Regions from separate parts of the Homo sapiens genome. Here region 2 is reported to be linked to region 1. Evidence: microRNA targets listed by miRTarBase, many of them from high-throughput screens and not tested one by one. Region 1 holds a microRNA gene; the other region holds the end of a gene's coding sequence.

What was found. Region 1 holds the annotated microRNA hsa-miR-6840-3p (GCCCAGGACUUUGUGCGGGGUG, at 1,534-1,555, opposite strand). A microRNA usually pairs through its seed, bases 2 to 8, with sites in the 3' UTR of a target mRNA and lowers its output. Matches are read on the target gene's strand: a 7mer-m8 pairs with bases 2 to 8, a 7mer-A1 pairs with bases 2 to 7 and ends in A, and an 8mer does both.
Region 2: miRTarBase lists APOL1 as a target of hsa-miR-6840-3p. Seed matches in the 3' UTR shown: 7mer-A1 at 2,698-2,704 and 7mer-m8 at 2,369-2,375.

What each region holds. Positions count from the first base shown.
Region 1 is chr7:100,354,103-100,358,250 of GRCh38, reverse strand. MIR6840 (microRNA 6840) reads right to left here and starts at 1,600; the gene lies at 1,530-1,600. It overlaps PILRB (paired immunoglobin like type 2 receptor beta), which reads right to left and starts at 134. Exons shown (of 4, transcript NM_178238.4): 1 at 1-134. STAG3L5P-PVRIG2P-PILRB (STAG3L5P-PVRIG2P-PILRB readthrough) reads right to left here. Exons shown (of 17, transcript NR_036570.1): 12 at 3,011-3,108; 13 at 1,368-1,501; 14 at 1-31.
Region 2 is chr22:36,265,531-36,269,530 of GRCh38, reverse strand. It overlaps APOL1 (apolipoprotein L1), which reads right to left. Exons shown (of 6, transcript NM_003661.4): 6 at 2,006-4,000. The coding sequence ends at 3,498. Among named protein-coding and RNA genes, the nearest start is that of APOL1, 14 kb to the right of the region's middle.

The DNA.
Region 1 (4,148 bases):
AGAGGGGCCCTGTGGAGGGGCTGCCTGAGGGCTGAGGTGAGTGGGGAGAGCCAGGGTGAGGCTCCCCAGAGGGCTGTGGGGGCCGGGGACCTTCCCCAAACCAGTACACCTCCAGGGTGACCAGCACTTCCTTTATCCATCTGGCTTCTTATTGCAAAAGGGCCTTAGGTGCCTTTTTATCCCTTGCCTAATTGCTCCGGCCAGGACTTCAAATCCTTTTTTTTTTTTTTTTTTTAGTAGAGATGGGGTTTTGCCATGTTGGCCAGGGTGGTCTCACACTCATAGGCTCAAGTAATCTGCCCGCCTCAGCCTCCAAAAGTGCTGGGATTACAGGCGTGAGCCACTGTGCCCGGCCTGACTTCAAATCCTGTGTTGAATAGAAGTAGTGAGAGCGGGCATCCTTCTCTTGTTCCTGATCTTGGAGGCAAAGATTTCAGTCTTTCATCTAAAATGACTGAAAGACTTTCAGCCATGGGCCTTGCATGACTGGCCTTTATTTTGTTGCAGTACATTCCTTCTCTTCCTGGTTTGTGGAGTGTTTTACCAGGAAAGGGTGTTCAGGCTGGGCACAGTGGCTCAAGTCACACAAAAGTGTCAAGTCAGCCCTGCCCAAGGGCCCCAGTGCCCATCTTCCTGCTGAGGGGCTGGGCCTCACCTTGGCTGGCTGGGCCCCTCCCACCTGGATCCCTGCAGACCCCACCGCACTCAGCCTCACTTCTCATCCCTTTCTCTGTCCAAGGCCAGCGCAGGCTCTTTCAGGGAGAGGAAAGGCGGGCCTGAGTCTGTGCTCTGCTGCACCCCAGATTCAGTCCTCAGAGAGGAGAAGGAGGAAGCCAGTGGAGGTCACAGGCGCTCAGCCCCCAGCCCAAGCACCAGAGCCCCCAGCTTGTCCTCTGTCCCTCTCCCTCCCTGGCAGGGGCTCCCATGCAGTCCCCAGGCACCACCACAGCCCAGCTGGCCTCTTCCCACCCCAGGCCTGCTCCCTTGGTGCAGGGACCACAGTCTTGCTCAAGGGGTGAGGGGGCTGACGGTCCCCTACACAGAGACTGGTCCCTCTCGAGGCCACCCCTTGACCCCCAGACATGAGACTGGATCTGCAGGGTCCCCTCTGACCTCCCTGCCCTACACAGGAGGGGACAGAGCTTGGAGAAGCCCTGTCCCAGGCCACATGACTTGCAGGGCAGTCCCAGGACTGGAGCCCCCTCTACCTGGATCTCTGGGCCTCAACTTCTGAGTTGCAGGAACTCAGGCATAGGGGAGCCCCAGGAGGTTGTTCCCTCATACAGCCCCTCAGGTCATTCCCTCCACACACCTGAGCCTATGGCTGAACCAGGAAGGTTCCTTGGTGCCAGGGCAGCTGGACTCACCCTGGGTGATGGTGAGGTGGGTCCCCTTGATGGACTGCCACGACAGCCTCCCTGATCTGTATGTCCAGCTGGACTTGGCAGAAGTACACAGACTGGTCCTCCTTCCGCAGGTTCGAGATCCTGAGGAAGCCTCCCTGAGGAAGTGAAGGCTCAGAGCAACAGTGGGCACCCCGCACAAAGTCCTGGGCCCGTCTCTAACAGGGGATCTGCAGGTCTTTGCCCGGGGGTGGTCACTGGAGCTTTGGTGACCCACAGGGCTCCCTCCATAGGAGGCTCTGCCCATCCTCTCCAGAGTAAGGTGGCATCAGCTGAGGGGCCGTGGGGACAGGAAGGCAGGATTTCACCAGAGGAAGTGATAACAATCTTCTTGAGACAGAAGCAGGCAGGGACAGGCCTCCCTTCTCTTGTCAGTCTCTTCCCTGGTCCCAGTAGGCTCCTCTGTGCTTCCCAGGGCCAGTCAGGCCGATCCACCCTCCTTCCCTTCACAGGTCTGAGGAAACAGGCTCCCCATGCTCAGGAAACCCCTCCGTCTGAGCCAGGCCCTATACACCTCATTCTCCTTGTTCAACCCACAGGGAAACTGAGGCACCGGGGCTTTGGACTGAACTGGTCCCACCTGCAAAGGTGGGCCGAAAAGAGGACAAGGGACCCCCTGGCTGTTTGGGCAAGGCCTCAAGAGGGTGGCCCACCCTGCCTGAGGACTTTTTGTTTTTTTTTTTTGAGATGGATTCTCGCTGTGTTGCCCAGGCTGGAGTGCAATGGTGTGATCTTGGCTCACGGTAACCTCTGCTTCCTGGGTTCAAGTAATTCTCCTGCCTCAGCCTTCCAAGTAGCTGGGAATTACAGGTGTGTGCCACCACACCCAGCTAATTTTTATATTTTTAGTAGAGACAGGGTTTCACCATGTTGGCCAGGCTGGTCTCAAACTCCTGGCCTCAAGTGATCTGCCCACCTCAGCCTCCCAAAGTGCTGGGATTATAGGCATGGGATACAACACCCAGCCACTGAGGACTGACTCTTCGTTCCATTCCTGCCTTGCCCGTGGCCCATGGGACCCAGCTAGAAGGTCACCTGCTTACCAGGCTGCCCAAGGAGGGGGCCACATAGAACTTTTAGCCAACAGCCTCTGGGTAGCTCTGGAGGGTACATACTCCCCAGGGGCCTCAGGCCCGGTACCGCCACGTGCATTCTCCTTAGATGCAAGGTGCGTGTTTATGTCACTTTCCGGGCTCTGGACCCAGCTGAACCCCCATGGGAGATTCCTTTTGTGTCAGGATTTCTGCTCTGGAATGGTGTGAGGCCTCCCGGATGGTTCATCCTCCCTCCCCCAACAGCAGTGACAGGGCCTGGGGCTAAGCCTGGGGCTGTGGCTCTCTCTCAGAGGGGGGTTTTGGGAGGCACCGGCCCTGGAGGAGGGCATGATTCCAACATGGGCAGAGTCTAAATCCAGCCCGTTAGCCCAGCAGGTGGCCATGGGAGAGGCATGGGATGCAGTGTTCAGCAGAGGCAGGGAGGGGGCCAGGACCCTGCCCATTTTGAGAACTGCTGCTTGTATGTCCCCACCTTCCCCCAACAACTATCCTCCTTTCCTCACCAGCCACGTCTATGCCTGCCCCAGCCCCTTGCCCCTCCTTGGCACCCACCTTGTTCTTGCTTTCCCCTTGAGATCAGGAATGAGGCACAGATGTCTGCTCTCACTGCCTCCCTTCACGGTACTGGAGTCCTAGCCAGCGCGCTATGCCTGAAGGGAAATACAAGTGCTCTGTGTCTTCTTCAATTCTGTATTGATCTATTTGGCCTCCACCCATCACAGGGCCCATATTATCTATATTTCCTGCATTCTTGGCCTCTTTTTAGTGGGGGACATGGTCTCGCTCTGCCTGTAGGTGGGACTATAGGCACGCACCACAGTTCTCCCCTAATTTTCTTTTTTGCAGAGACGTGGTGTCACTGTTACCCAGGCTGGCCTCAATCTCCCAGGCTCAAGGCATCCTCTCAGTGTGCTGGGATTACACATATGAGCCACAGGGCTGAGCCCCTTGTACATTGCCAATGCTCTGGCATCTGGTGCCTCACTGACTAGGGAGAGACTCCCCCTCCCAGGGGTAGCTGACTGTAAAATTTTTACATCAACTTATTAAATCAGCTGGTCAATTTTGACCCAGAGCCATGCTGAAATTTTGATTAAGAAGCTCCTATTCAGGCGGGGCACCGTGGCTCAAGTCTGTAATCTCAGCACTTTGGGAGGCCAAGGTGGGTGGATCACCTGAGGTCAGGAGTTCGAGACCAGCCCAGCCAAACATGGTGAAACCCGTCTCTACTGAAAAAAAAAAAAAAAATACAAAAATTAGCGGACACGATGGTGCACATCCGTAGTCCCAGCTACTCGGGAGGCTGACGCAGGAGAATCACTAGAACCCGGGAGGTGGAGGTTGAAGTAAGCCAAGATCGTGCCAATGCACTCCAGCCTGGGTGACAGAGCAAGGCTCTGAAATCCAGCCAGATTTCAGGCAAGTCCTCCTACTTTCCAGCCCTGCCTGATGCCAGCTGTGGAAGGAGGGCATCAGGACTCTAGCCCAGGCCACAGCAGGGAGCCCGGCAGAGGGACGCCAGGTCAAATCACAGGGACTTTTCTCAGGCTGAAGCCCCAGGAACCCTTGCTGCTGTCCTAGGACATGGTGGGATTGCAGCAGGGACCATCCCGCTGGGATCCCCCAATTCTGTCTAGGAAGCCACAGGTGTCCCTCAGGAAGCTCCCCCAACCCCCCGCCACCCCAAGAA
Region 2 (4,000 bases), not on the chromosome of region 1:
GTGGGAGACTTTAACACCCCACTGTCAATATTAGACAGGTCAACGAGACAGAAAATTAACAAGGATGTTCAGGACTTGAACTCAGCCCTGGACTGAGTGGACCTAACAGACATCTACAGAACTCTCCGTCCCAAATCAACAGAATATACTTTCTTCTCAGCACCGTATAACACTTATTCTAAAGTCGACCACATAATTGGAAGTAAAACATTCCTCAGCAAATGCAAAAGAATGGAAATCATAACAAACAGTGTCTCAGACCACAGTGCAATCAAATTAGAACTCAGGATTAAGAAACTCACTAAAAACCGCACAACTACATGGAAATTGAACAACGTGTTCCTGAATGATTACTGGGTAAATAACAAAATTAAGGCAGAAATCAAGAAGTTCTTTGAAACCAATGAGAACAAAGACACAATGTACCAGAACCCCTGGGACACAGCTAAAGCAGTGGATAAAGGCCTCCATGTCTCCTCCCTGGAAACAAAGATTCTGAGGACGCTCCTTGAAGGCACCTCAGAAGGTCTCATTGCCCATATGGATGGCCCATTCAAAAACTTCTTGTATCAACGTTTCCTCCTTCCCTCCTGGATCCTCAGTTCTGCTCCTAGAATCACTTCCTAGAAACCCTCTGCACCAGAACGTTGCCTCTGGCTCTTCCTTCACAGGACCCCAGGCCGCAACAGGCTACTTTAGGCAGCATCATGGCCTACATCTTTGTGCTAAGAGTAATGGGAAGCCATTGAATGGTCAGAAGTGGGTGCTCGATCAAATCTATGTTCTTAGGTGGGCACGGTGGCTCGTGTCTGTAATTGCAGCCCATTGGAATGCCAAGGCGAACAGATCACCTGAACTCAGGAGTTTGAGACCAGCCTGGGCAATGTGGCACACACGGATGGTCCCAGCTACTCAGGGGGTCAAGGTGGAAGGGTAGTTTGAGGCCGGGAGGTCCAAGATGCAGTGAGCCATGCTCATGCCACGGGACGCCAGCCTCACAACAGAGTGAGACCAAACAAACAAACAAAAAACCCCCAAAAACCCAAAACATGATCTTGTTAAAGCCCAACCTGGCGCAGTGTGGAGAATGATCCAGGACATGGGCAGGGACGGGCAGTTGCACATGGAAGACCATTCTGGAAGTTCTTGCAGGAGTCTGGGCAAAACGTGAGGACAGACTGGATGGGGGTGTTTGCTGTCTGGATGTCCCTCTTTGCCCCTCTATTACTCGATAATCTTCTCCCAATCTGCACACAGGCCCCTCTGACACTAGTCAGCCTCGAGCGTCCCATGTCAATCCCGGGCTCTGACTCGCAGATGGAAACCACACCTGTGCTCAGCCAGAGCCAGACATGTACAAGCTTTCTGTGGGTGCCCCAGTGGGGTTGGTGGGGTTTTGAGGTCTCAGGGAAATGACCAGCTGGGAAAGTGAGAGTCCAGTGAGCAAGCAGGAGGGGCCATGGAAGCCTCGTTTCCCGAGACCCTGGAAGAAGGATCATGAGGAAGGGAAGTCAGGCACCCAGAGCCCAGGGGAGCCTCCATCGGCACCACAAAGGCACAGCCATCAGTCAGTGCTGATTGGACCCAAGTCTCCAGGACACAAGATGGGGAGAGCTGGGTGGACCTGAGACATCACCTTGTCCAGGTACCCTTCTACAGCTGATGAGGAAACTGAGGCTCAGAGAGGCGAGGTCTCGTGACCACAAGCGGGGTTGAACTCCTGGACACACCTCAAGGTTCCTTGACCTGTTCCTGGCATCTCCTTTCATTTTTCCTTTCTTCCCAAATTAACCTCTTTCCAACACAGCACTTCAAGTTCCCCTGGAACTTCATCGGTCCATCGGTGTCCCCTGGTCTGGAAGAGCACCGACCACTTGCCAAGGCCCCCACCACTCTGCTGCCATCACAACCACCATCACCACCATTACGAGAAAAACTTGAGACTGATGGCCCCCAAAGCTTGGAAAGAGCTGAGAGACCAAAGAATGACTCGAACAAGTCCAGCTTGATGAGTAGGTGAGTTTATTGGGACTTACACACAGGTCAATCCTGGGCGGCGACAAGACAGCTCTAGAGATCTGAGCTTCCTCCCAATGCTAAACTGCTTTCATGCTAATTTTCTGACTGTTTACTTACCGGGTAAGAGCGATGGGACTGTTTTCATTGGTTGGTTCTCACATACTCTCTGGGAAGTTTGGGTTCTCAGGGACACCTGCTCCTCAGCTGGGGACCATGGCCATGGCCCACCACCTGCCCTTCAGTGTTCAAGCAGGGGACATGCACCCTTTAGTAACCTGGAGGGGACCCATCACATGACAACCACCCCAATGACCATCATCAGGAAGCCGCTGCCTGACTGAGATATGCCCCCAGGAGGACAAGGGAGAGTGGATGCTGGAAAGACAGGGCAGGGGACCATCACCAGGGAAAGACTTCATTCTTCGGAGGACATTGAACCTGGGGCTGGGTCTGTAGTGGAGCCGCTGTTTCTTCTCCTGTATCCAACTGTTCTAACTCTTGGGCTTTCTCCATTTTCAGCTCTTTCTTTTCCTGGCCTTCTCATTGCTGGTTCCTTCAAGCCTCCTCTCTATTCTTCCGTCAATATATTCTTTTTTTTTTTTTTTTTGAGATGGAGTCTCGCTCTGTCACCCAGGCTGGAGTGCAGTGGCGATATCTCGGCTCACTGCAAGCTCCACCTCCCAGGTTCACGCCATTCTCCTGCCTCAGCCGCCCAGTTAGCTGGAACTACAGGCGCCCGCCACCATGCCCGGCTAATTTTTTGTATTTTTAGTAGAGACGGGGTTTCACTGTGTTAGCCAGGATGGTCTCGATCTCCTGACCTCGTGATCCGCCCGCCTTGGCCTCCCAAAGTGCTCGGATTACAGGCATGAGCCACTACACCCGGCCCCCCAATATATTCTTTAGTCTAAAGTAAACTGCTTCTTCCCATTCCCCACACTCTCCAGTTCCCATTTTTCCCTTATTGCAGGCTCCAATGTTCCTGCCTTCTCCTTGCTGCACTGCCATCTGCATTAACCCCTCCCCTGCTGTGCTCAGCTATGGAAATGCCAAAGTCCCTAACACTCAGTTCCATAAACTTTACCTCACCCTCTTTATCCCCCTAATAAAATGTTTGCATTTGGGTCAAAAGCGATGGCTCACGCCTGTAATCCCAGCACTTTGGGAGGCCAAGGTGGGCAGATCAAGAGGTCAGGAGATCGAGACCATCCTGGCCAACATGGTGAAACCCCATCTCTATTAAAAATACAAAAATTAGCTGGGCATGGTGGTAGGCGCCTGTAGTCCCAGCTACTTGGGAGGCCAAGGCAGGAGAATCGCTTGAACACGGGAGGCAGAGCTTGCAGTGAGCTGAGATCGCACCATTGCACTCCAACTTGGCGACAGAGCAAGACTCTGTCTCAGAAAAAAAAAAAAGTTTGCATTTTGTCCTGGCCCCTGCCAGGCATATCTCTCCTGGTGGCTGCCCTGCCCTGTGGTCACAGTTCTTGGTCCGCCTGCAGAATCTTATAATTATTGTTGAGAATGTTTAGCTTCTCCTCCAGCTCCTGAGCCACCTTCTTCAGCTCCTCAGCTGTCTCTGACTTTGCCCCCTCATGTAAGTGCTTTGATTCGTACACGAGGTAGACTACATCCAGCACAAGAAAGAAGCTTACAGGGGCCACATCCGTGAGCTTGACTCCTCTGCTCATTTCCAGGATGCTGGGTTCATTAACCCTCTCCACCTGTTCACCGCTTTCAGCTGAGATTGGCTCAGTGACCCGGGGGCGTGAGGCTGAGGCATGCGGTACTGACTGAAGATTGGCTCTGGCTCGTCTGAGGGCACGGATGTCCTTCCCAATGCCTCGTGTGAGTTGGTAAGTATTGCCAGCTAAGGAAAGAAAGTTGGATATGTTCTCACCCAAAAACTCCCTCACCTCCTTCAATTTGTCAAGGCTTTTGATGACCAGGTCGTGGGCTTGGGCTTGTGTCCACCACTTCT